Linked DNA regions of Homo sapiens. The main gene of each other region encodes a partner of the protein of the gene in region 2 in a complex. Each region holds a gene or a part of one and is shown on either strand. Other genes may lie near its edges.

Region 1 (4,671 bases), on a different chromosome or scaffold from region 2:
TGTGTGGCCACGCACCGTCTTGGGTGGTCTGGCCCCCACCTGTCTCCCTGCGAGTCCCCTAGTCCGTGGGGTGTGGGTGGACAGCCCTCCTGCTACTGGGACTGCTTCTGAGCAGGCCATCCCGAGTTCCCTCAGGAAGCCGCAAGGTCCCGACTGCAGCTCCGGGATGGGGGAGGGCACAGTGCTGGGCCGTCCCTGGGCGCGGGGTCCTGCTGATGCCCGGTGTGCTGGCCCCTCCCTACAGCTGTTCATCGGGACTCTGCTCTTCACCATCCTGCTCTTCCTCCTGCCTACCACAGCCCTGTACTACCTGGTGTTCACCCTGGTGAGCTGAGCACCCACAGGCTGGGCCTGGCTGCAGTGCTCTGTGTGGCTTCTGCCAGCGCTGCCTGGGAGCAGTCAGCTGTGGGGCGGGCTGTCTCCTGCTGCAGGCCACGTGGGTGGCCTTTCAGGACCCTCTGGGCAGTGAGTGCTGCGCTCTGGAGTGGGCGAGGCCCTATCCTGGCCAGTAAGACACCCTCACTGCCCTGGAGCACGCAGCTGGGTGCGTGGTGGAAGGACCCCACGGCAGGTGGGGTCACGCAAGAGGCCTCCCCTGGTGCCTGGCACTGGGGCAGACAGTGGGAGGTGAGCAGAACCACCTCCAGCACCTGCTTGATTCCCAGGCCTCGATCCCCTCTGCATGTGAGGCTGTGGGGAGGCACCTCTGACCTGGTGAGAGGGCCGGGTGCTCCGCCTCCAGCTTTGCTCCAGAGCAAGGCCCAATGGCAGACTCCGTGCCCTGCTCAGGGTGGGGTCCCTGCTCTCCCCAGGACCCTGCAGCCTCTGGGCCCCCTTCATCGTGGCCCAGGATGGGGTCGGACTGCTCTGCCCCCAGGCGCGTCTGGCCGGGCCGGTCCTAAATGCTCCTCTGCCACAGCTCCGGCTCCTGGTGGTCGCCGTGCAGGGCCTGATCCATCTGCTCGTGGACCTCATCAACTCCCTGCCGCTGTACTCACTGGGTCTTCGGCTCTGCCGGCCCTACAGGCTGGCGGGTAAGTGCTGCGTATTGGGCAGCTGGCCCTGGGTAGGTGGAGGGGAACCACACCTGTGGGCCCTGCAGAAGCAAGGACAGCATGGGCCACTGTGCCTCCAGCCTGGAAGCCGTGGTATGCATGCGCAAGCGGGCAGGGAGGACAGGGCCTCCTAGTCCCAGAGGTCTGCAGGACCAGCTGCCTCCAGGGAGGTGGAGAGAGACTCAGAGACTCACCTGCCGCGCAGGTTCAGAACCCTGGAGACCTGAGGCCACAGGCCTTTGTTCTTCTGCCTTGGGATTTTCTGGGCTTGGGAGTCTGAACTGCAGGCCAGGGGCCAAGCGCGGCAAAGTCAGAGGCACTAGGAGCCAGCAGGGCGGCCACCATCCAGTAAGTGCCCCGTCCGCTGTGCCGGAAAACCCCGTCCACTCAACAGCACAGCCTGCGCCCGTCCCTCACTGGGGCTCTTCCCTGCTTGCCGGACACCTGGCTTCTTTCAGTGGAGTCTGCAGGAGGCTTTTTTTTTTTTGAGACGGAGTCTCACTTTGTCGCCCAGGCTGGAGTGCAATGGCGCAATCTCGGCTCACTGTAATCTCTGCCTCCTGGGTTCAAGCGATTCTCCTGCCTCAGCCTCCCGAGTAGCTAGGATTACAGGTGTGTGCCACCACGCCCAGCTAATTTTTTGTATTTTAGTAGAGATGGGGGTTTCACCATTTTGGCCACGCTGGTCTCGAACTCCTGACCTCGTGATCCTCCCACCTCAGCCTCCCAAAGTGCTGGGATTACAGGCACGAGCCACCGTGCCCGGCTTTTTTTTTTTTTTTTTTTTGAGATGGAGTCTTGCTCTTTTTGCCCAGGCTGGAGTGCAATGGTGTGATCTCAGCTCACTGCAACCTTCGCCTCCCTGGTTGAAGCGATTCTCCTGCCTCAGCCTCCCAAGTAGCTGAGATTACAGGCACACGCCATCACACCCGGCTAATTTTTGTATTTTTAGTACGTATGGGGTTTCACCATGTTGGCCAGGCTGGTCTTGAACTCCTGACCTCATGATCCGCCCACCTCCCAAAATGCTGGGATTACAGGCGTGAGCCACCGTGCCTGGCTGCAGGAGGCTTTGATGCCGGCCTGGCAGCCAGCTCCAGGAGTTGGGCGACGGAGGGGGCGGGGAGAGCTTCGTGGGTGGCCACGGCCAGCAGCACCCGGGTGCCCCTCAGAGAGGAAGGTACCTGCAGCCTCTGCTCATGTGTGGGGCCAGCCCCCACGCGTCCCCTCGTCAGCCGCTTGCTATCCTTGCAGCTGGCGTGAAGTTCCGTGTCCTCCGGCACGAGGCCGGCAGGCCCCTCCGCCTCCTGATGCAGGTGAGGCCCCTTGTGGCCAGGACGCCCCTACGCTGCTGCCCCTGTTCTGGGACGGTGGGGTCAGCTGGGTGTAGTGTCTGGGTGGCACCACGCCAGCCTGCGATGAGGTACAGGGAGGGCCCAGTGGAGCTGAGGGGGAAGGCCCACGCGGGACCCCCTCCCCCTTACCCCCAGGGCCTGAGGACACTGGTGTGGTCCTGTGGATGGGGCCCATTCTGCCCTGTGTCGGAGGCGCCCTTGGCTGGCTGGGGCTGCCCTGGGCCCCACAGGGCTCAAGTTCTGGGTGGAACAGAACCGACTGAGTGAGTCCTGGGGTGGGGTGTGCGTCCCTGTGGCACGGCCCCTCAGAGTTGGGCAGCCCCGAGGGGAGATGCAGCTTCTGCCTCCCCCCAGCGCTCCCTTCTGGCTGCAGGCTCACTTGCCTCCTTGGGAACTGGGACTGGCTTCTCCCACAGGCAAGGGAATGTCTGAGACAGCACTGGCCCTGCCTCACAACTGCCCGCCCCCACCCTCTCTCTGCAGACGGGGTTGGAGCTCAGACCACCCCACTGACCGCTGCCCTTGTCCTTCCAGATAAACCCACTGCCCTACAGCCGCGTGGTGCACACCTACCGCCTCCCCAGCTGTGGCTGCCACCCCAAGCACTCCTGGGGCGCCCTGTGCCGCAAGCTGTTCCTTGGGGAGCTCATCTACCCCTGGAGGCAGAGAGGGGACAAGCAGGACTGAGGGAACTGCTGGCTCGCCTGGCACCACCACACGGCCACAGCCAGCCATCTGCTCTGCCAGGGTGGCACCAGCTCAGCTGGCGCATGTCCTGTGCTTTGTGGACGCTGCTGTGTGCTCCTGAACACGGCAGGCCCTGCTATCACACCTTGGGCTTGGAGGTCATTGGGAGTGAGCAGATGTGGGGGTGGCCAGCCAGGCTGGCCGCACTCCATCACTGGCACTGCCTGCCTTGGGACCCGCTTCCCACCTGCTGCGGTCACCATGGTGGCGAGCACAGCAACCCCAGGTGTCCAGAGCACTGCCCCATGCCCACCCTGTGTACCCAGGTCCAGAGGGTCCGTCCACCACAGCAGCCCCAGGTGGAGGGCTGGTCTCCCTGGGGGCTCCCCAGTGGCTCTGCCCTGGCTGTGGGGGTGGAGGGACCTTGCCAGGATGAACCCCCCAGTCCCAGGCACCCTCTAGCTCCCTCAGCCGAACAGCACCCTGCATCTGGGGGATTGAAGCAGTCGCTGACCCCCGTCCCCAGCGGGCCCGGGCCCTCACTCCCTGAACCACACGGGGTTTATTTGCGGATGTTCCCTGGAGAGGTCGCTTTGTGAAGAAACCATCAGCAGGCTGTGAGCATCGCCAGGCTGCTGTGGGGGCGGGAGCAGCCTCAGTGTCAAGGGCCCGCCCACTGACCCAGCCGTACCTATTCGTCCACGGTGCCCCGTAGCAGCAGGTCCTGCGGCCAAATCTGTCTCCCTTCATGGGCCTCCCAGGGAAGGAGGAAGCCCTGCTGTGCAGACACCTCTGTGGCCCCCCAGGAGTGTGAGTGGCCTGGGGAGGGGGCCGTGGCACTGAGGCCGAAAGTGCCTGCCAGACGGCACGGTCTGGGTGCGGGTGTTCCCTGTGAGCCCGAGTCCGCTTCAGGAGGGGAGCCTGCAGGTGCCGGCTGGTGAGGGGATGACGCGCTGTGGGTGGGAGGAGGCAGCGCCCATCTCAGCAGCACCAGGACTGCCTGGGACTCCCTGGCAACCCAGCACCGGGGAAGCCGTCAGCTGCTGTGACAATAAAACCTGCCCCGTGTCTGGAGCGCAGGCTCGGTCCCGGGTCCATGTGCAGCGCGGGTCCAGGGAAGCTCTGGGGGGGGGGTGTGTGGACGCTACTCGAGGGACTTGGGCTGCCTCACGTGGGTCTGCCCTGCAGAGTCTACACCGGCCTCCTGCTGGAGGCCCTGACGACGGCTGATGGGACGGGCTCACAGGCCCTGGGCCCTTGAGGACTTTGGTGTAGGCAGGTGAACCCGGGCCGCCCACCCTGGGGGCCGCCCACCCTGGGGTCGTGGCCTTGCCTCGACATAGATGGTGCAGGGGTGTAGGCCTCCAGGGGTGGGGCGAGCAGCTCCTGCTCTGAATCTGTGGACTCCATGTGGGGTGGGCCCCTCGTGGGTCCTGGCCCAGTACAGCCTGCGACTGCCACAGCTGCTAAGAATGGTCTCTGTCGCCTGCAGTGCTGGGGGCCCAGCTGGCGGGCCCCACAGCCCGTTCCCAGCCCGAAGTGTACAGGCCTCCATCCAACCTGGACTTCCAGGC
Region 2 (7,029 bases):
CCTGGCCTCAAGCGATCCCCCCATGTTGGCCTCCCAAAGTGTTGGGATTATAGGCATGAGCCACCATGCCTGGCCCAAACATTTTCATTAAAAGACTAGATAGTAAATATAGCAGGTTCTGTGGGGTCTGTCTCATAATATTCTTTTCTTTCTTTCTACAACCCTGTAAAAACTTAAAAATCATTCTTTGCTTGAGATGGGCCAGACAAAACCAGACCACAGGCCCAAATAGTTTACAGATCCCTGATCTAACACTATGGGTTAACTATGAAAAAGTAGAAAGAGACCATCAAAGAAAACCAGAGCTAGTGAGTAGTTGAAGTGGTACAAAAACCAGATGTTATTCAGGAACTATTACAGTAGGGGAAAAGAGACTTCAGTATAGACTTCCAAATTTCCTCAGTTCCGAATATAGCATGGACAAGTGGAGATTTATAGCCAAGGAGCAAGGTGGGAGTCAGTGGATGGAAAATTACCCAAAGGAAACATCAGGGGCAAGGTGGGATTCTGGCTAAATTGACTTGACAGGATTCTTGCTGAAGGCATGCCAGGCTGATCAAATACCAAGGGTGGGAGTTCTTTCTAAACTGATTCAGCAAGATTCTTGCTACAATTGGGTGGGTAGTGCAGGCCCAACAAAGATGTCAAGGTCAGGGCCTAGACAGCTTAGAGGAACCTGACTAGAAGTAGATAAAGGAGGGCATCTTGTCAGTGCAAAGAATAATAAGACACTTCCTGCCCTCAAGGAATGCAGTCCAAAATTACAAAATTTCTTTGATTCTAGGTCATCAATAATTTTTTTCCTGTGCCAGTCTTCTAAATCATAGCTTTGCCGGGTGCGGTGGCTCACACCTGGAATCCCAGCACTTTGGGAGGCTGAGGCGGGTGGATTGCCTGAGGTCAGGAGTTCGAGACCAGCCAGGCCAACATAGTGAAACCCCATCTCTACTAAAAAAAAAAAAAAAAAAAAAAAAATTAGCTGGGCGTGGTGGCGGGTGCCTGTAATCCCAGCTACTAGGGAGGCTGAGGCAGGAGAATCACTTGAACCCGGGAGGTGGAGGTTGCAGTGAACCGAGATCACACCATTGCACTCCAGCCAGGGAAACGAGTGAAATTCTGTCTCGAATCAATGAATGAATGCAAGCTTCTGGGAAAAAAGATAAAACAATGCCACATGAAAGAAACACACACCAATAGGAAAACACATTTTAACTTCAGAAATGTTAAAGATTATACATTGGTCTTAGAATCAAGGGAATAAATAATAGACACCATTTTTTGAGCCCTTAACACATCACTTAGTCAACTGTAAGTAACACAGAACAACTAAAATAGCCTTAAGAGATAAGGACCTTTTATATTAACAAGAAGTCATAAGGTAGGAGGGCTCCAGAGTTCACGTGGAGACTCATTTGATTCCGGCTCTTGTCATCTTACTGCTGACACCCTTAGTGTGCCCTACTTGTCCTCCACCTGGTCCTCCAAGTGCAGAAACTGCACTTCCACCCTTAGCGTCCTCTAGTTGTCCTCTACTAGCTCTCCACTGGGTCTGGCAGAGGCCATAGTAGTTCCAGGTATCTAAACCTCATGATGAAGGGAACGTCTCTTCTGCAGATTTTTAAAGATAAACTCAAGTTTTCCAGAAGCCCCTCCAGCAGATCTCCCCTCACATTTCATTGGCCAGAGTTGTGTCACATGCCAATTTTTAAAGCAGTCATTGGCAGAAGGAGTGGGAACCAATCATGGTTCACTCACTGTTCAATTGGGGCTGGTGGGTGGCTGTTTATTAGGCAAGCCATAGTATCTGCTACACTGTGCTAAGCACTTTATAATTGTTCAGTCTATGATTTTGCACTATATACAGATGGTTCCCAACTTACGATGGTTTGACTTAGGATTTTTTTGACTTTAGGATGATGCGGAAACAATACAAAGTCAGTAGGAACGGTACTTCAAGTAGGAACGGTACTTCAAGTACCCATACAAACATTGTTTTTCACTTTAAGTATAGCATTGAATAAATTATATGAGATTTACCACACGTTACTGTAAAATCAGATTTTATGTTACATGATTTGCCCAACTGTAGGCTAATGTAAGTGTTCTTTTTTATTTTTTTTATTTTTATTTTTTTTAGACGGAGTCTCGCTCTGTCACCCAGGCTGGAGTGCAGTGGCGCGATCTCGGCTCACTGCAAGCTCCACCTCCTGGGTTCACGCCATTCTCCTGCCTCAGCCTCCCGAGTAGCTGGGACTACAGGTGCCTGCCACTACGCCCGGCTAACTTTTAGTATTTTTAGTAGAGACGGGGTTTCACCGTGGTCTCGATCTCCTGACCTCGTGATCCGCCCGCCTCGGCCTCCCAAAGTGCTGGGATTACAGGCGTGAGCCACCGCGCCCGGCCTAATGTAAGTGTTCTGAGCACGTTTAAGGTAGGCTAGGCTAAGCTCTGATGCTTGATAGGTATATTAAATGCATTTTTTAATTTTAATTTTTTATTTGAGTGCTAGAACTAAATATTAAATGCATTTTCATCTTATAATGGGTTTATCAGGACATAACTCCCTCCTGTATTCTGCTGAGGGAGTGTGAAAGGAAAAGATTTGGGGTCCTTTTTTTTTTTGAGATGTCTCACTCTGTCATCAGGCTGGAGTGCAGTGGTGCGATCTCGGCTCACTGCAACCTCCGCCTCCGCCTCCCAGGTTCAAGCGATTCTCCTGCCTCAGCCTCCAGAGTAGCTGGGACTAGAGGCACGTGCCAACACGCCCAGCTACTTTTTGTATTTTTAGTAGTGATGGGGTTTCACCATGTTGGCCAGGATGGTCTCGATCTCTTGACCTTGTGATCCACCTGCCTTGGCCTCCCAAAGTGCTAGGAGTACAGGCGTGAGCCACCTCACTCGGCTGGGTCCTTTCGATTTTTAGAGACAGTGTCTTATGCTGGTACCCAAGCTAGAGTGCAGTTCTATGATCATAGCTCACTGCAGCCTCGAACTCCTGGGCTCAAACGATCCTCCTGCCTCAGCCTCCCTAGTAGCTGGAATTACAGGTGCAAGCTACTGCGTTCAGCTGATTTAGGCCCTAAAGTTGGAATTTTGGAAGAAAAATTTCTGAGATTGCTGTGATGGACATTTTGCTGATGGAGGTTTCCCCTAGACCTATCCATTTGTTGTCTGGATCTGTTTCACTGTATACTTTCATAGCACCTTAGAACCCAAATAAAAGCAATTTCCTTTTCCTCCATGCATGTTCCCCTCATTGCCTGGAGTTGACTGGTACCACTTGGTAATCTTACTGTCTGTGTCTGGCTCTCTCTTCAGAACAGCATGATCCTCTCTGCTGCCATCTTCATCACCCTCTTAGGTCTGCTTGGTTATCTCCATTTTGTGAAGATTGATCAGGAGACTCTGTTAATCATTGATTCCCTTGGCATTCAGATGACTTCATCTTATGCTTCAGGCAAAGAAAGCACTACCTTCATAGAAATGGGCAAGGTCAAGGATATTGTCATCAATGAGGCCATTTACATGGTAAGTATTTAAAAGGTAAGTATTACAGGCCTCTCTGGAGGAGGTAGCCAGCCCATGGGATGTTCCCAGATTTAAACTAAAACCGTAAAAGTGAGACTTATATTTAAAAGGTAAATCTCTTTATTTTTAAAGAGATGCAGCAGGTTTTCATGGATAGGGAATTAGCATTTCAACTTTATCTTCAAGACCAACTTCAAAATTATCACTGGCATTTTTTCCTTCTCTTTCTATCTTTTTTCTTTTTTTTTTTTTGAGACAGGGTCTCACTCTGTTGCCCAGGCTGGAGTGCAGTGGCTCGATCACAGCTCACTGCAGCCTCAACTTCCCAGGCTCAAGCCATTCTCCCACCTCAGCCTCCTGAGTAGCTGGGACTACAGGCATGCACCACCATGCTTGGCTCGTTTTTTCTATGTTTTGCAGAGATGCAGTCTCACTATGTTGCCTAGGCTGGTCTTGAATTCCTGGGCTCAAGCCATCCTCCTGCTGTGGCCTCCCCAAGTGTTCAGTTTACAGGTTTGAGCCACTACGCCTGGCCCTGTCTTTTTTCATTTAAAGAATGAGAATATACTTTTCTTCCACTTCAAAAGCTATCAAGTGTTCTACTACTTAAACATTTGTGAAAAAGTGTTGAGCCTTCCCTTAGAAAAATAGAATGTGGCCAGGTGTGGTGGCTCACGCCTGTAATCCCAGCACTTTGGGAGGCCAAGGCAGGCGGATCACCTAAGGTCGGGAGTTCCAGACCAGCCTGACCAACATGGTGAAACCCCATCTCTACTAAAAATACAAAAAATTAGCCGGGCATGGTGGCGAGCGCCTGTAATCCCAGCTACTTGGGAGGCTGAGGCAGGAGAATCGCTTGAACCTGGGAGGTAGAGGTTGCAGTGAGCCGAGATTGCGCCACTGCACTGCAGCTTGGGCAACAGAGAGAGACTCTGTCTCAAAAATAAATAAATAAAGGAAAAAGAAAAAAAGAATGCAAAATGAGTTTCACTTAGACTTTGCTATTTGATTTATTTTCTTACAGCAGAAGGTGATTTACTACCTCTGCATCTTATTGAAAGATCCAGTGGAACCACATGGGATATCCCAAGTAGTACCCGTCTTCCAGGTGAGCATAGAATACTTTTACCATTCTCCAATTACTCCTCAACCTTTTCATTAGGAATGTAAATTCCTTTTGTCAGAGTATTGGAAGATACCTGACAGCTGTTTTGAGTGATAATTAGGATTTCAGTTATTTGAGAAGTTCCTCTCTGAGGCAAATGTATTCCTTAAAAATATTCATGCACATTTTATTTTATTTTAGAGACAGAGTCTCACTTTGTCACCTAGGCTGGAGTGCAGTGACAATCACCACTCATTGCAGCCTCCACCTCCCAGGCTCAAGAAATCCTCCTGCCTCAGCCTCCTGAGAACTTGGGACTACAGGTGTGCACCATCTCGCCTGGCTAATTTTTTTTTTTTATTTTTAGTAGAGATGAGGTCTTGCCATGTTGCCTAGGCTGATCTTGAACTCCTGAGTTCAAGCAATTCTCCTGCCTCAGCCTCCCAAAGTGTTGGGATTACAAGCATGAGCCAGCATACCTGGCCTCATGCACATTTTAAAGAACACAATCAAATATATAGCAACTTCTGCCTATAAATCACCATTCATCTACTTTGACTCTGTCAGTCTACTACTGTACACTTTTTTTAGATAGAGGTAATTGATCTTACATTGTACACTATTGTGTGTCTTGCTTTGTAAATAATTTAATATGTATGTATCCTACAAAGGCCATTATATTTATTATTTTAAATAATTGTATAATATATTGAAATATCAGTTTATTTAGCCACTCTTGCCAGCTTTTAAAATCATGCCTGGGTTTTTTTGTTTTGCTCTTACAAAAAAAAAAAAACACTTATCAGCTGGTGCAGTGGCTCATGCCTGTAATCCCAACACTGTGGGGGAGGCTGAGGCAGGCAGATCACTTGAGCTCAGGAGTTCGAGACCAGCCTGGGCAACATGGTAAAACCCCCATCTCTACAAAAAATACCAAAATTAGCTGAGCATGGTGGTGCACATCTGTGGTCCCAGCTACTGGGGAAGCTGAGGTGGGAGGATTGCTTGAGCCCAGGAGGTCAAGGCTGCAGTGAGCTTTGATCATGGCACTGTATTCAGCCTGGGTGACAAGAGACCCCATCTCAAAAAACAAAAATTATACAAACATAATAAATTACAAAATAATAAATTTAGAGGTAGGTATTTATGCATGTATTTATGTATACAGTTAACCCTGCCTCACTGACCTTTTTCACAAAGGATTTAAGATAAGCCAAAAATTATTTTGCATTGTAATTCAAAATTATTTTATTAAAGCTTATGAATAGTTTTATAGATTTCTAGTGTTTAAGATCGGGCTCCAGAGATTGGACAACTTTATCATACTTTGGGGATTTTGTACTTCTTTTTCTACCATCCTGGCTAATAGTGGATTTAGCTTTTTTAGCTTAATATGTAGGTAAAGGCATTAAATTTGTATCTCTTTAAATGATAGGCTTTTCATATTTCCTTGTATTACCTATCAGTATTTCCTCTTACTTTAAACTACCTATCTTCTCTATTAGTCAAGTAGAATCTGAATATTATGTATTTGTATCTATTTTTATATATTTTTAACAATTCTTTATATATTTTAGGTAGTGCACTTTTATTAAATATACTTTCACATATATTTTTTCCATTCTGTGGCTTTTCTTTTAATTTTGGTTATTACATTTCATTGTGTAAAACATTTTTCAATATTTACATATTAAACTGCACTTCTTGTGTTTGAGGGCTGTTTTACAACTTGTGACATTTCTCAAGGGTCCATTTTGTTTTTCCTCTTGCTTATTCTTAGAGATGGAGTTCATGAAATTTAGACAGATTAAAAAGCTATCATTTGATCTCCCACCTCGCATAGTTCACAAGCTGTGCTGTAAGCCTAGCTGGGACTCTTTCCAGCAAGGTGTGCTGAGGCCTAAACTTCTTAACTCCATGAGCTCACTGCTGTGTCATTTATACCCCTTGATGTGGGTGAGAGATTGAAGTTGCATGTGGTCCCGGCACCATGGCTCAAGCCTGTAATCCCAGCACTTTGGGAAGCCGAGGTGGGCAGATCACTTAAGGCCAGGAGTTCAAGAGCAGCCTGGCCAACATGGTGAAACCCTGTCTCTACTAAAAATACAAAAATTAGTTGGGCATGGTGGTTCGTGCCTGTAGTCCTAGCTACTTGGGAGGCTGAGGCACAAGAATCATTTGAACCCGGGATGCAGAGGTTTCAGTGAGCCGAGATTGTGCCACTGGGCGTGGTGGCGAGCACCTGTAATCCCAGCTACTCGGGAGGCTGAAGCAGGAGAATCACTTGAACCTGGGAGGCGGAGGTTGCAGTGAGCCGAGATTGCGCCACTGCACTCCAGCCTGGGCAACAGAGCAAAACTCTGTCTCAAAAAAAAAAAAAAAAAAAAATTTGCAAG
Region 3 (7,739 bases), on a different chromosome or scaffold from region 2:
CATACTAATTTTTAGTTTCCTGTTTTGTTGATTCTAACCTTATGCCTGTATTCTTAGTTCTAGTGGACTGGGACCCTAAGGCACTTGAGACATAGTGAGGGGGGTGGGGCCATTCATTTCATTTAACAAATATTTATTGAACATTGATGGTGTACCAAGCACAGGGCTGTGCTAAGGAGATGGGACATGTATTCATATTCTATGTCATTCTAGAACTGCTGTTGGTTTCATTTCAACAAAAATTTTTTAGTACCTTAGATAAAACATCTGGAACTTGAAACAAAATTGGCAAATTCATATTCTTCTTGGATGAAGTCAGAAAAGTCGCAGAGGTATGAGGATATCTAAGTAATTAAAACAAGAGAACGTTAGAACCGCAGTCCCATGTTTGAAGAGCCAGGCCCTTGGTTGTTTCTGAGAGAATACAAGGGACACCACAGGGAGCTATCTTCCACTCCAGTTCTGGAGCACTCAGGCCATTGGGGAGCTCCCAAAAGATGGATTTGCCCTCCTATGTCACTTTGGCTTTTCTGTCCCTTTTGTTTTGCACTAACCAATTTTGGATTGTCAGACACTGTACAAACAAGGCAGGATAAAGATTGTTCACAACAGTAGATGTGTAATGAGCGAAATGAATCCCAGGTTTCCTCTTTGAAAGGGTCTGCACTCAAGTTTTTGATGTTTAACCTGCACCTGTCCCCTTTCGTACCTGGGCTGACTTCTTGGAGTTTGTGTCCTTGCACCCTGAAACAATCCACCTGTTTCCTCCCACAGAATGTCTTCTCCCTTCACCCATTCTTTTCCTTTGGAACATTTTTTCTTTCTAGTTAGCAGTTGAAGCAGTGATGTTGCAAGAACACCAGTTCCTTTTACAGGGTGACCTGCCTGCGCTCTGTCTCACTTGGCACTGTGGTTCATTTCATTACAGTGTAAGGGGCCAAGGCCTGCAGGGGCCTGATAATCATAAACTGTGTGTGTTGCACCATTCATGCCCCTGGCATCCAAGAAATAGAAACTCAGAATGCTGGCAGTTTTGCCGGGAACACACCTCCTCTCTAATGAGGGAAGATTTCATTGTCCATTGTTTATTTAAAACAAAGGCATGTGAAAGGAGTTTGATGCTCATGAGACATTTCTTGCTTCATTTCTCCTCACACTTCCCTGGGCCCTGTAAGACCAGAGATGGTGGGTCTGACATGAGTGCCCTCGGGGTCTTTGTCTTTGATATGGGAATAGGCTCTCTTGGACTTGTCACCCAAATGCTGACCAGCAGAGACCAGGAGGCCAGTTTAGAACTCCTTCAGCATACAATAATCTTATATAAACATGACCTTAGTGTGACTTGAAGGGCTTTGGAGACTGACGATGAGTGTGGCTTTGAAATTGTCAGGCCTACCTGAGAGAGTCCTTGAAGGAAGTGGGTCAGTACAGGCACTTCTTATTACAGCCCAGCCTCACCTCCTCCAACCCTGTAGGTGTGTTTCCATTGCGCACACTTGGAATTACTCTGAGCATATTTGGCTAAATGTTCCTTTATCTTTTTTCAGACTGTTCTGCATTAGAACTCTTTGCTCAAGGGTATGTAATGCTTAAGGCACATTGAGAACTTTCTCCCAAAGTCTCAGTAAGGGGCTTTGCCAAAAATAAACAGCTTGGAACCCGGAGCTTTGGCCCACATGAGGAGCTTTTAATCCTTAAGATCTTTTGATACTTAAACCATCCTTTCAAAAGACTTTTCATTCCCGTCTTGTCCTCCTGAGAGCTCAGGGCACCTCAAAGGTGCTGTTCGGTCACCTTTGTTGTGAGGTAGGTATATTACATTTTTCTAAACAAGAATTAAGATTGCTACCCCAATCCTCCCAGAATAGCGATGAGTAGAGCTTCACTGCCTGCCTAAGGTAATTTCTCCTTGTGCCTAGCTTAGGTTTGGCTGGCTGGAGGAAAAACTGCCCACTCCCTTTCCAGTTGGCTGTCAACAGACTGTCTGCTCTGACCCTCCAGGACCTGGCTATGAAAGTGAACAGGTGCTGCCGATGCCCAGTTGTATTCTAGGCCTACCCTTCTCCCTGATCTCCACCCTCTGCCAAAGGCTTGTGTAATTAGAGACCAAGGGAGCTGGGGGCAAGAGAGCCATGCACAAGGATACTTTGCTCTTCGCTGCTGGGGCAGGTCTAATGGGCATGGGGGTAGTATGGGATGGTGGGATATTACCCTATTAGATCAAACACTAGCAATTTCACATAAAACATCCAGATTTCTAGTACTGTTAGAAGACCCAGTGGATCTGGCCTCTGGACTCACATGCCTGCAGGTAACACTGCTGGCGTGGGGGTGGGCTGAAGCGGGGAGGTGATTTCCCATTCATTGCAGTCCTGTTTGGCCAGCTTTACTCATTATGCCCCTCATCTGACTGTCATGGGCCTGTGAGTTTGTGTCCCACCCTCAATTAAAATATGCTAGACTGTCCTTACTCGTGCTGATCCATGCAGTGTTAACAACTCTTAATAAGCACTCTATCACTTAGTACTTTTGTTTCTTAAATAGGCCTTTGAGTTTATTGAACCTCTGATAATCTGCTTTCGTTATATTCAAAATTATGTAAAAATAACACAACTGAATAACGAGCACTTGAAAGCACTTGTGAATTTTGTTCTGAAAATACTAAAACCGTCTACCTATTTACTGAGAATGAGATTTTTTTTTAATGTACAGTAGACAAAGCAAAGGTACATGTTACTAAAGTGGGGATGTGGAGACAGTGATGGGAATTTGCTTATGAAGTCACTTATCCATGGGCAGGAGGGTACATGGTAGTTATCAACAGGAGGAGAAACTCTTTTTGGGGAGTCTGGCTTTTCTAACGAGCTGTTTCGAATGCCAAGGAGTCATTCCTTTTTAGTCTGTCGTGTGCCTTTGGAATGGCCTCTATGCCTGCCCTTTCTCTTTCTCTCTGCCCTCTTTCTGGTTTCTCTCATTCACCCCAACACTACCTCACACCTACCCTTCTGTCCATGTCCCCTTCCCAGAGTGGGGTTTATCACTACACTTAGGAACCATTTCATCAAAAATGGAGAAGGGACACGGTAACCCAATTATTTCAAGAGACAGTTGAAATGCTCCCTAGATATGTAATTCCTGCAATTTTGAAAAATAGATTTATGTGTCATATAGTAGTTTGTTTGGAAGGAGTAGGACTAACAGGAATGTAGGAGGGTGCCTCAAAGTTACATACAGAGTTACTATTCTATAAAGATGGGAACTTACTGTTCTAGACTTTTGATGGTAAAAATGTGAAAATTTCAGACTACAGCAGTGGAGAAAATGTGGGGTGAGAAAGAGGATGGAAGTGTTTTGAGAGACAGTGTCTAGGGGAAAAATTATCTTATACTGTTGAGTGGTAGTGGTGGAGAGGGAAAAATTTTGAGATCTCATCTCCTCTAGCCAGGCCTATACTCAGTGATCATTTTTTTCTGAGAAACCCGGATTATTTCTATTTTTAAAGCACTTGACTTGAGTTTCTCAATGGATCAAATGTGCCCTCTGATAATTGTCCCCATCCCTTAAGAAGAAATCATCTTCTGTGAGATGTTTCGTAAAACTTTTGCCCTCGGTGGCTGAGAGGTTACCTTCTGGGAAGGCTGAGCACTAATGGCTTGTTTACAAGGCTGGCCTCACTAAGCCAAGGAATCTTGTCAAATTTTGGAACAGAAGCCTAGAGGGAAATAGAGAACATTTTACAGAATATATCACACTTAAACATTGCTATCATTACGATGGCCAAAGTCAGCTAATAGCAGCCATATAGTGAACACTTTACAAACCATTTTTATATTTAACTCTTTAACCATCCTATAAAGTAGCCAAGTGCAAATAATGTCATCTCCATTTTACTGATGAAGAAATCAAAGCTCAGGTAGTGTGATTTGCCTTGAGTCACTGAGCTAGTAAATGGGTCATGTTTTCTGACTTTTATTTCCACTGTATCCTGTGTTTTACTACATCCCTTTGTTTCTTTATTACTTCCTTCTGTTTATATATCCTTTAATATTTCCATGAACTCAGTTTAATTAGCAATCTTGTCCTCACTTCTTTTAGGAGGTAAAGAGGAAAAAAACCAAGCTTTGAAGCTATAGACAACTGGATATTGATCTCTGTTCATCTACTTCCCAGGTGCCTGTCTTTGGACAAATACAACTTATCTGAGCCTTAGATTTGTCCTCTTTGAGGGGGGAGATGATATAATCAGTGTAAAGGTCAATGCACCAAAAAAGAGAGTTTCATGAGAGCAGCAATTTTTGTGTGTTTCATTCACGGCTGTATCATGAGCACCCCAAGCATGGCTTGTTACATGCAGGCATTCAATCAGTATCTGTGGAATGAACGCATGGATGCACGGGAAGTCCCAGCTGAGGGCCTGACTTAATAAAGGAGCGCAACAAAAGCGGCCATTATCTCTCACCTACTGGCCCAGCCTCTTTCCTTGTCCTCTCTTGCCTTACCCAGTCCTTCAGATGGCACATCCCATCTTTCAATAGGGGATTGCTGGGGATTTGCCTTCCTAGGCTCAGAGCATTCGGGTTTGGGCCAGTCTCCAGGAGAGGAGACCGGAGGTCCTTCGAGCAGCCAGGAGGGGGCAGCAGTCACGTCGCGATGGTTCCAGCCGGGGAAGGGTGCCCTCGCTAAGGAGATTGCGGCGGACCCGGAAGTGCTTGGCCACAGTCGCAGCCCCGGCGCCCCGAAGCGGGAAAAAGGCTGGGTGCCGCCGTCCCCCAGCTGCGCAACCCTAGGAACTCTCGGGTAGGTGGGTTCCGTGTAACGGTCAGTGTTTCCGGGGCTCCTTTTCCTCTGCTGCCTCCCGCAGACCCAAGGCTGAGTGAGGGGCGGCGGCGGAAGTGGGAGGCCCACCCAAAAAGCCAAATGGGGTGCCAGAAGAGTGAAGGCGCACCCTGGGGTCACCCTACCCTACCCCGTCCCCTCCCAGCCCCACTCTGCGGGCGGGCGCTGCCCTTTTGGGCGTCGCAGACCCTCCAACCCCGGCGGCGGCCTTAAGATTCCCGGGCTGGGATCCCTGCTGCAGAGGGGGTAACGGTGTCTGGCTTGCCAAGCAATATTTGTTGTGGTCTATCATGGAAGAAATAAAGTCGGGCAATATGAATTTTTTTTTTCTCAAATTTGCCGGATGGCTGTGGTGTTTCTGACTCTTAGTTTTCTCATTGTGAAAAAGGAATGATTATCTTCTTCGATCCTCTCAAGAGTTTCCTTGTTTTGAGTAGATTGATAGCTCTTTAAAGGATGCTAAGCTCAGCTAATGGAAGAAGAGTCTAGTTTCTTTGAGGCTTTGATTTTGGTTAAACTATAGAGCTCATACCTTTCTGTATGGTGCAGCTTACTATTGTCTTTGGATTGGTAACTTAAAAAATACAAATAACATGCCTTTGAGAACCAATAAAAACTATGGATATTATCCCTATAAATTTACACAAATCCAGATATAAGCATGCAATGTGATATACCTAAGGGATATGTGAACCACTGAGTTAAGAACTGCTTTAGAGGGAGATACAATGTGAGACACAGGCTTTGGGATAAGACTTTGGTTTGAATCCTGGCTCTGCTCTGTTACCTTAGGGCAAAGTTACTTAAGCATCTTGAATCTCAGCTTTTTTACCAAAGCAGGACTAATACTAACTTACAAGGTGGTGAGGATTAAGTGAAAGAAGATACATAAGGCACTTAGCACATAGTAGGTACTCAATAAGCGATAGCTAACAGATGTCTATTATTATTCAAGGAATTATAATTTTCAAATCTGAAATGCAGTTTTAATGTCCCATAAGGTGACTACCACATACATTTTTCTCAGACTTTTAGTAAACTGAGTTGATTTGACTTTATCTCAGTACTACTCTTGACCTTTCACAACTTTCGTAGGTTCACAGTCTCTCTTTTTCTAGGAACTTGGCTGTGTTGTCCTGCCTCAGAGACAAATTCATCTATTGTAGGCCTAGCCCCTGCCTTTGAAAACAAGGAAAGGTTGGTAGAACATCAACACAGCATGGAATTTCCAGGGAGGTCTCATTTCAAAACTTCATAAAGAACAAGAACCACCTGGACTTCTGTGAGGGCGATGATTAAACTGGCCTGAGTTTGAATGAAAGGATAATGTATGCTCAACCTGTGACTAACACCAAGGAGGTCAAGTGGCAGAAGGTCTTGTATGAGCGACAGCCCTTTCCTGATAACTATGTGGACCGGCGATTCCTGGAAGAGCTCCGGAAAAACATCCATGCTCGGAAATACCAATATTGGGCTGTGGTATTTGAGTCCAGTGTGGTGATCCAGCAGCTGTGCAGTGTTTGTGTTTTTGTGGTTATCTGGTGGTATATGGATGAGGGTCTTCTGGCCCCCCATTGGCTTTTAGGGACTGGTCTGGCTTCTTCACTGATTGGGTATGTTTTGTTTGATCTCATTGATGGAGGTGAAGGGCGGAAGAAGAGTGGGCAGACCCGGTGGGCTGACCTGAAGAGTGCCCTAGTCTTCATTACTTTCACTTATGGGTTTTCACCAGTGCTGAAGACCCTTACAGAGTCTGTCAGCACTGACACCATCTATGCCATGTCAGTCTTCATGCTGTTAGGCCATCTCATCTTTTTTGACTATGGTGCCAATGCTGCCATTGTATCCAGCACACTATCCTTGAACATGGCCATCTTTGCTTCTGTATGCTTGGCATCACGTCTTCCCCGGTCCCTGCATGCCTTCATCATGGTGACATTTGCCATTCAGATTTTTGCCCTGTGGCCCATGTTGCAGAAGAAACTAAAGGCATGTACTCCCCGGAGCTATGTGGGGGTCACACTGCTTTTTGCATTTTCAGCCGTGGGAGGCCTACTGTCCATTAGTGCTGTGGGAGCCGTACTCTTTGCCCTTCTGCTGATGTCTATCTCATGTCTGTGTCCATTCTACCTCATTCGCTTGCAGCTTTTTAAAGAAAACATTCATGGGCCTTGGGATGAAGCTGAAATCAAGGAAGACTTGTCCAGGTTCCTCAGTTAAATTAGGACATCCATTACATTATTAAAGCAAGCTGATAGATTAGCCTCCTAACTAGTATAGAACTTAAAGACAGAGTTCCATTCTGGAAGCAGCATGTCATTGTGGTAAGAGAATAGAGATCAAAACCAAAAAAAATGAACCAAAGGCTTGGGTGGTGAGGGTGCTTATCCTTTCTGTTATTTTGTAGATGAAAAAACTTTCTGGGGACCTCTTGAATTACATGCTGTAACATATGAAGTGATGTGGTTTCTATTAAAAAAATAACACATCCATCAAGTTGTCTCATGATTTTTCCATAAACAGGAGGCAGACAGAGGGGCATGAAGAGTGAAGTAAGTGTGTGTGTGTGTGTGTGTGTGTGTGTGTGTGTGTGTGTAAAGTCACTTCTTTCTACCCTTTTCAATGTGCTAATGCTCTTTTATTTATCTAGGGCTCAAATCTTAGAACACAGGGTGCTATGCTCAGTTTTGTTGCCCAAGATCACAGAATTGGTTACTTAACCTTGACTCAGAGTTTCTACCTTGTTCTTAGGGAAGCATATCACAACTAATTGCAAAGCAGAGTGTGATGTGTCACAATAAGCAGAATGCTAGGGGGAATTCAGAAGCTGGAGATAAATTTCAGCTGGAATAATTAGGAAATAAGAGAGGCGGTGACATTTAAGCTTAGTCTTGGAGGACAGG
Region 4 (7,074 bases), on a different chromosome or scaffold from region 2:
GTAAACAAAGTGCAGGATGGCCAAGATCACCTCAGCAAGGAGGATAACCGGCAGCAGAATGAACAAGGACATAAGCAGGCACCTGTTTTTCTTGACAGAACCTATGCAGCCCAGGAAGGCAACCACCGTGATAATGGAGACCACGATGACAAGCACATTGCCCGGCATGAGGGAGGGGAGCTTATGGAAGAGCACTCCCAAACTGTTGTGGATCAGCGGGTACATCCCCATAACTGCAGCAGCCACAGAACCAAAAGAGCAAGTTGGGCTGTGCGTGGTAGCTCACGCCTGTAATCCCAGGACTTTGGGAGGCTGAGGCGGGAGGATCACTTGAGCCCAGGAGTTCAAGACCAGCCTGGGCAACATAGTGAGACCCTGACTTTACAAAAAAAATTTTAGAAATTAGCCAGGTGTGGTGGTGCATGTGTGTGCCTATGGTCCCAGCTACTCAGGAAGCTGAGGTGGGAGGATTGTTTGAGCTCAGAAGGTGAAGGCTGCAGTCAGCTATGATGGAGCCACTGCACTCCAGCCTGGGAGATAGAGCAAGATCCTGTCTCAAAAAAAAAAAAAAGAAAGAAAGAGAGAAAGTGAGAGAGAGTAAGAAAGAAAGAAAGAAAAGAAAGAAAGACAGGACATACTTCCATAATTTCAAGCTACTTGTGCCCATGCTGGGATATTCTGGTCCTTTTGCAGGCACTAGTCCTCAGCCCTTCAGACAGAATTTGTGATTATCCTTCAGATGGCCAAAACAAGGCTGGTAACATTCATGTCTAGAGTTATTTCAAAACTCCTTTGATGTTTGAAACTAGCATTACTACTTTACTATTGAGGATAATTTTTTAATATGTTTATTGACCAACTGTATTTTCTTTTTTGCGAATTTTTCTTTTCAAATATTTTGTCCATTTATCTATTGGAAACTTGATTTTAATAAACTCATCATTAAAATTTATTAATAGGACTTTTATGATTTTTGTTTTTAAAATAAATGTTGGGCTGGGCACAGTGGCTTATGCCTGTAATCCTAGCACTTTGGGAGGCCAAGGTGGGTGGACTGCTTGAGCTCAGGAGTTCCAGACCAGCCTGGGCAACATGAAACACCATCTCTACAAAAAATACAAAAATTAGCTGGGTGTGGTGGCATGCACCTGTATTCCCAGCTACCTGGAGGCTGACATGCCAGGATTGCTTGAGTCTGGGAGGTCAAGGCTGCAGTGAGTCACGACTGCACCACTGTACTCCAGCCTGGATGACACAGAGAGAATCTGTCTCAAGAAAATAAAATAAAAATAAAAAATAAGTGTTGTCAAACTAAGAAACAATTGGCAAAATGAAAGTAAGTCTTTGTAATCACAGAAAGAAAAGATCAAGCAGAGATAAATGTTAGTTCAAATACTAAATGATGCCATCTAGTGGAAAATTTATTTTGACTCATTTCTTTGGATTGCAGGTTCACAAATTTCAATGCCCCCAAATTTGGAATTGACAGGCTCTGTTAAAATACATAGTCCAGCCCCTCTTCTGCCTAGAGATTTCTAACTTCATGTGTGTGATAATCCAAGAATTGTGTTTCAATAGTATCCATATTGGAAATTAGAAAAATTCCATTTCAGTTAAAAAGAGTGTCCCAGAAGTACCTTGTGCTTTCCCTTTCCATCAGAATGTTTACTAGTTTCACCATAATAAATAATTTTATTGCTAAACATTCTTTAAATGTGTTAGCCCCTGTGCTGTTTTACTTGAATTGTTTTATTTAGTCTGTTCAAACACTGTAAGTTACATACTATTATTATTGTATTTCACAAGTGAGAAGGTTGAGGGTGAGAACTTAAGTAGCTTCTCCAAGATCACACAGCTATATTGTATCTGAGCCCAGAAACCATCAGGTTATTGTGCACAGGCCTATGTGACACGAAAGGTCAGTCATGTGAATAGTGAAAAGGGACTAACTTTTAAAAGACCAGTTCCAGTCCCATGATCCTATCCTATCATCTACATTTAGCTTAGTATACTACAGGCAGAAATGAATTGTATTTCTTCATTACTAAGGGCTATTTAGGGACATATTGCTTTGATATGTTGCAACTTAATACACACATGGTGATAGTCATACATTCATATGTTCCTTAAATATTGGTTGTTGATTTCTGGTGTTATAAATTTGAGGATGTTTTCAATACTTTGCTGTTACTCTCTATTCTTCCCCTAAATAAAGTAAACTGAACTGCCTCAAACCCTCTATGTGGAGGCAAACTGAAACTAATTTATTTATAACTGGTTAGAAAACCCAGTTGATAGAGATCTGTCAGCCAAGCTAGCTGAGGCTTAAGCATGGGTGCCTTCCCCTACCCAACAAGCGCCAAGGGTTGGGCCCACTCAGCGCTTGCAGAAGTCAAGCGCTGTTTCTCCTTAAGCAGAAACTTATCTTTCCTACAGCTCACCCCTTCCCTTGAGCCCAAAGTATCAACTGACTTCAACTGAAAAATTAATTCCTGCTACTGCCCTAGTCGGAAATAGTGTGAAGGTGACATAGGAACTTTACAGTAGTTTCCCTTGAGGGTATGTCCCGATAACTGCCCTATTCTCTAGTCCGTTAGTAACTCTAATAACGGAAAGTTATGACTGTGAAAGATTGCTTTGTGAGGGAAGGAAGGTGAGGCAACCAGAGACTTTCATTATCTCTTAAATATCTATCCAGTAGAAGTGTTTCCTTTTTGGTATCCTATAAACTACATTAACCTTAGAAAATCTTCTGAGCATTAGTGAACAAAGAACATCAAAAAATAAACTGTTTTTTTTAAAAAAAACAGGATGGCCCAAAAAACAAACAAAAAATTAGGATGAACATATAAACATTTGTCAGTTTATTTTTACATTGGAGTGGAAGAGAAATTTGAAAATATAAACATATTTTTGGATTCTGTACTTCCAGCTCCAGGAACTCAAAGTGTGAAATGATAATGCCCAGTGATGCAAAAAAAAAGTTCAGGTTGATATTCAGCAGAACGGAGGGAAAAAATGGATGACTAATGAGAATCTTTGAGTCTTCGGACATGGAAAAACTAGATGAACTAAAAATAAAAATAGACAACATTAATGGAGCATTAATTTGTGCCAGGCACTTTTCTAAATGTTCTTCGAATGCACAATCACATTTATGCCCTACCTACAAGGTAGGTACAATTATTAGTCTTATACAGATAAGGAAAATGAGCAGTTAAGTCATTTGCCAAAGTCATCCAGCTACTAATTGTGGACAGGGAACCAAGCTGTCAGGCCCCAGAGCCCAAGTTCCCATCTACTACACTGTAAGAAAGAGATCTAACATGGTCACTTTCTTGGAGAGTGGGAAGCAAACCTGGGATACAAATTCACTGAATGGATCACCCACTCATTGAATGGATCTTTAACAGGCAGATCACATCTGCCTGTTACACAGCTATTTAGGCCCCTTGCGGCCTCCAAGCTCATTTATAGAAGTAAATTAGCTGTGCTTTATTACGCAAATACTTCACAATGACTGGGTCTCAGGCAGGAAGAATTTATATATTTTGGAGGGTCAGAGGCCTAGGCCCTTCCTTCCAGGTTCTCACTTTTTTTAATGAGAGAGAAAAAAGCCAAACAAGGTTACAGAAACTAATGGTATAGTAAAGATGTACATGAAACAAATGAGCGCTTTCAATACATCCATGACAATACATTCGGTACAATACATAACAGTGTGTTTGAAACTTCACTTGGAGGTAACCACGTAGGTCCAAGCCTAACTCCCTACAACTCTGAGGCCTGGCCACTGGCTTCCTAGCATCCTTGGACAGGCCCCGGTGAAAACCCAGACACCTTGACTTAAACACTGGTTTAGTTTGTAGTCTGGTAAGGCGGCGGGGCACTCACCAGAGGCCTCTGCCCTGGGGCTGTCCTCCGGACTATAGATGACGCCCGTGGGAAAAGCAGTCGGAGCAGAAGCACCCTCGGAACCAAAGCGCCCGCCCCGCCTACTCCTCGGCAGCGTTTCCTGGAGGACCAGGGGGCGGGGCCTGCCCGGCTGGCCTGGACGAACGGGAAGCCGGGAGCTCGGCCACGGGTGGCGAGGCTGCGGTGAGGCCTGGTCTCCGGCTGCCAGACCATGCTGAGTGGAGCACGCTGCAGGCTCGCCTCAGCGCTGCGGGGAACGCGCGCGCCGCCGTCCGCGGTCGCCCGTAGGTGCCTGCACGCGTCGGGGTCGCGGCCTTTGGCCGACCGGGGCAAGAAGACTGAGGAGCCGCCCCGCGACTTCGATCCGGCGCTGCTGGAGTTCCTGGTGTGCCCGCTCTCCAAGAAGCCGCTCAGGTAACTCGCTGGCCTTGGCCCTTCCTTTGCAGCCTCCCGGTGGGCGGAAAGGGAGCGGTGGACCGCGGCCTCTTGCAGCCACTGGGGCCTTGTAGGTCGGTCAGGTACTCTCCGCTGCCACATTCTGGACTCTGTCCTCGCCGGGCGCACAGCGGGCAGGACGGGGGAGACCGGAGGCCAGGGGAGCTGCGTCCCACATCTCCCAGAACGCAACGCCAGCCTGCGGGAATGGCTCGAAGCGTTTTAGGGTTCGCGACCGGCTGCGCATTGCAATCACCCGGGGACCGTTTTAAAAATGCCGATTCCCCGACAGCCCCCAAGACGGGCAGACTTGGAATGCTCGCGGGATGGGACCTGAACATTTGTATTTTCTTTTCCTTTTTTTTTTTCCTTTTAAGAGACAGGGTGCCCCCTACGTTGCCCAGACTGGCCTAGAACTCCCGCCTCAGCCTCCTCAGGAGTCGAGAGACAGGCGCCGCCCCCACGCCCAGCTTATCTGTGTTCTTAAACGGTCCCTAAATGATTTCTAATGTACCACCAGGTTTATGAACCACTGCGATTCAGGACAAGTCCGAAGCCTTCCGGTTTTTAAGCCAAGATAATGAAAAGTATTGTTGTACCCTCCAGATTCTTGTGAAAGTGTCTTGTACAACTGGTGCCTGACAATCTTAAGCAATTCAGCTGTGTTTGCTGCCCAGTGGCTCTTAGTTGTGGCCTAGCAGGTTTCGTAGAAGCCTCTTTAACTAGTTTTTGGGAAGACAGCTCTACAGTTTCCAAGCTACCAAAATTGAATATTGACAACACTAACGCTAGTATTACAAATCGCATAAACACCAAAATGTTATCAGTGGTTATCTTTGAATGGTAGATTGCTAGCAATTTTTCGTATTTCTTTTTCCCGTAATAAACATATTATTCAATTTTCTCGAACCTTGAAATTATCATTTGATTTACGTTTATAACTAGCTCACTGCAGACTTAGTGCTTTCGAAAGTTTCTTCATTTCTGCCCTCTCACCTTTTCCAGTGATTTCCTTCTAATGGATTAGTTAAGTTTCTCTACTTAGCATTTATTCTAAAATGAAGAAGTTGATTTTTCTCTAGTGTTTATTCCAGTAGTAAATTAACAGGGATGGTTTGGGGGTTGACCAAAGTAATGAAGGAATATTTGGATAAGAGAGGGGGATCTTTTCTGACTAGTATGAAAAAAAATTAAGGAATAACTTGTGAATAAGGTGAAAAAGAGAATATGAGAGAAACTACTAAAATGGGAATAATTATAGATTGTAAGAGAATTTTTCTAAGATAAAAGGTTGAATTGGCTATTGTTGCTTTTAGAATTAAAGAAGACTATTCTGGGATTAACTCCGTACCAAAAATTGGATAAATGGTGGTATTTGTTGAAAATCAGGCTCTTCAAGCATTTTATTTTCCCACAACTCATTTTGTTCTTTTTTTTTCCACCTCAGATATGAAGCATCAACAAACGAATTGATTAATGAAGAGTTGGGAATAGCTTATCCAATCATTGATGGGATCCCTAATATGATACCACAGGCAGCTAGGATGACACGTCAAAGTAAGAAGCAAGAAGAAGTGGAGCAGCGCTAGTTCATAATTTAAAAAAATTAAAAAAACGCAACAGCCAACTTTTCTTAATACCATATACCTTTTAAAACACAGTGGCAGGTAATAAGTGGAAGAGAAGAATGTTTCTGTCTCTTCCTACGTTGACTGTTCTTATTCCACTGGTTTCTTTAGCAGGACTGTTCTACTCAGCCTCTGTGGAAGAAAACTTCCCACAGGGCTGCACTAGCACAGCCAGCCTTTGCTTTTACAGCCTGCTCTTGCCTATTACCATACCAGTGTATGTATTCTTCCACCTTTGGACTTGGATGGGTATTAAACTCTTCAGGCATAATTGATGCAACTAGAGTCAATATGCTGTATATATTAATGATAGCTCTTGGGCATCGATCTCTGAAAGCTCAAATGGATGGAATTTAGTTTGCGGGAAAGAGGCTTTGCTTTGCGCATATCAGGCTTAGGACTGTGGGAGGCTTAAGTTGCAGATGCTTCTTTTATTGTACTCTTGTTCTGCCCTTGTTTTTTGAAGGCTCTGACTTATAACTGCTGTATCAGAAGAAACATTTTGACAGTGTCTTGGTTGGAGATGAACATCCCTAATTGACATGTGATGACTATTTCTTATTCCATTCATCTAAGAGTCATTGAAATTTTGTTTTGCTTGTTTGTTTAGCTTCAAGGTCTTTGGTAAAGTCACATGTTAAGGATGACTGAAATAATTCCAAAGGAGTGATGTTGGAATAGTCCCTCTAAGGGAGAGAAATGCATTTGAACGAATGTGATATAAAACCACATAATCAAATAGAAACTTCATGTACTTACAAAAACTGAGTTTGTAAAATTACCTTCATTTCTTTGACATTAAATGCTTATATTAGCAATAAACATGTTGACACTTTCCTATAAAAAATAAACCAGTTTGCAGTAGTCGTTTGTTTGTTTGGTCACAGAAGTGTTAATGATACTAAGGGAAGTTGTAAAACTGCACTAAATGTAGTTGTGTTTAGAGAGGTACTTAATACCCAAAACAGAATCATTTCCTGGGAAAGTGAGGGGTGGGAAGACTTGCAAGTAGTGGATTGTACCCTGTTGAGCTTAGAGCCATATTTGAGCCACATTTCAGTTTATTTTCCCAGGATGCCGAATAACACCACTAAGG

The links.
Region 1: PIGH (region 2) and PIGQ share a complex: the UniProt entries of both Homo sapiens proteins name them as parts of the glycosylphosphatidylinositol-N-acetylglucosaminyltransferase (GPI-GnT) complex.
Region 3: PIGH (region 2) and PIGC share a complex: the UniProt entries of both Homo sapiens proteins name them as parts of the glycosylphosphatidylinositol-N-acetylglucosaminyltransferase (GPI-GnT) complex.
Region 4: PIGH (region 2) and PIGY share a complex: the UniProt entries of both Homo sapiens proteins name them as parts of the glycosylphosphatidylinositol-N-acetylglucosaminyltransferase (GPI-GnT) complex.

Annotation. Positions count from the first base shown.
Region 1 is NC_000016.10:579,939-584,609, forward strand, and holds the end of PIGQ (phosphatidylinositol N-acetylglucosaminyltransferase subunit Q), read left to right. Parts: intron 1-244; coding exon 245-325; intron 326-919; coding exon 920-1,034; intron 1,035-2,309; coding exon 2,310-2,371; intron 2,372-2,944; coding exon 2,945-3,097; coding exon of another isoform or gene 3,098-3,696; 3' UTR 3,697-4,171; downstream 4,172-4,671. UniProt on the Homo sapiens protein: Part of the glycosylphosphatidylinositol-N-acetylglucosaminyltransferase (GPI-GnT) complex that catalyzes the transfer of N-acetylglucosamine from UDP-N-acetylglucosamine to phosphatidylinositol and participates in the first step of GPI biosynthesis.
Region 2 is NC_000014.9:67,590,242-67,597,270, reverse strand, and holds part of PIGH (phosphatidylinositol N-acetylglucosaminyltransferase subunit H), read left to right. Parts: intron 1-3,318; coding exon 3,319-3,528; intron 3,529-4,552; coding exon 4,553-4,636; intron 4,637-4,834; coding exon of another isoform or gene 4,835-4,956; intron 4,957-7,029. UniProt on the Homo sapiens protein: Part of the glycosylphosphatidylinositol-N-acetylglucosaminyltransferase (GPI-GnT) complex that catalyzes the transfer of N-acetylglucosamine from UDP-N-acetylglucosamine to phosphatidylinositol and participates in the first step of GPI biosynthesis.
Region 3 is NC_000001.11:172,441,046-172,448,784, reverse strand, and holds PIGC (phosphatidylinositol N-acetylglucosaminyltransferase subunit C), read left to right. Parts: upstream 1-4,715; 5' UTR 4,716-4,797; intron 4,798-5,931; exon of another isoform or gene 5,932-5,954; 5' UTR 5,955-6,162; coding exon 6,163-7,056; 3' UTR 7,057-7,328; downstream 7,329-7,739. Other genes in the region: uncharacterized protein C1orf105, read right to left, coding at 254-344, 3,627-3,712. UniProt on the Homo sapiens protein: Part of the glycosylphosphatidylinositol-N-acetylglucosaminyltransferase (GPI-GnT) complex that catalyzes the transfer of N-acetylglucosamine from UDP-N-acetylglucosamine to phosphatidylinositol and participates in the first step of GPI biosynthesis.
Region 4 is NC_000004.12:88,520,753-88,527,826, reverse strand, and holds PIGY (phosphatidylinositol N-acetylglucosaminyltransferase subunit Y), read left to right. Parts: upstream 1-4,050; 5' UTR 4,051-4,126; coding exon of another isoform or gene 4,127-4,329; intron 4,330-5,797; coding exon of another isoform or gene 5,798-5,939; 5' UTR 5,940-6,037; coding exon 6,038-6,253; 3' UTR 6,254-6,829; downstream 6,830-7,074. Other genes in the region: PYURF (protein preY, mitochondrial precursor), read left to right, coding at 4,127-4,329, 5,798-5,939. UniProt on the Homo sapiens protein: Part of the glycosylphosphatidylinositol-N-acetylglucosaminyltransferase (GPI-GnT) complex that catalyzes the transfer of N-acetylglucosamine from UDP-N-acetylglucosamine to phosphatidylinositol and participates in the first step of GPI biosynthesis.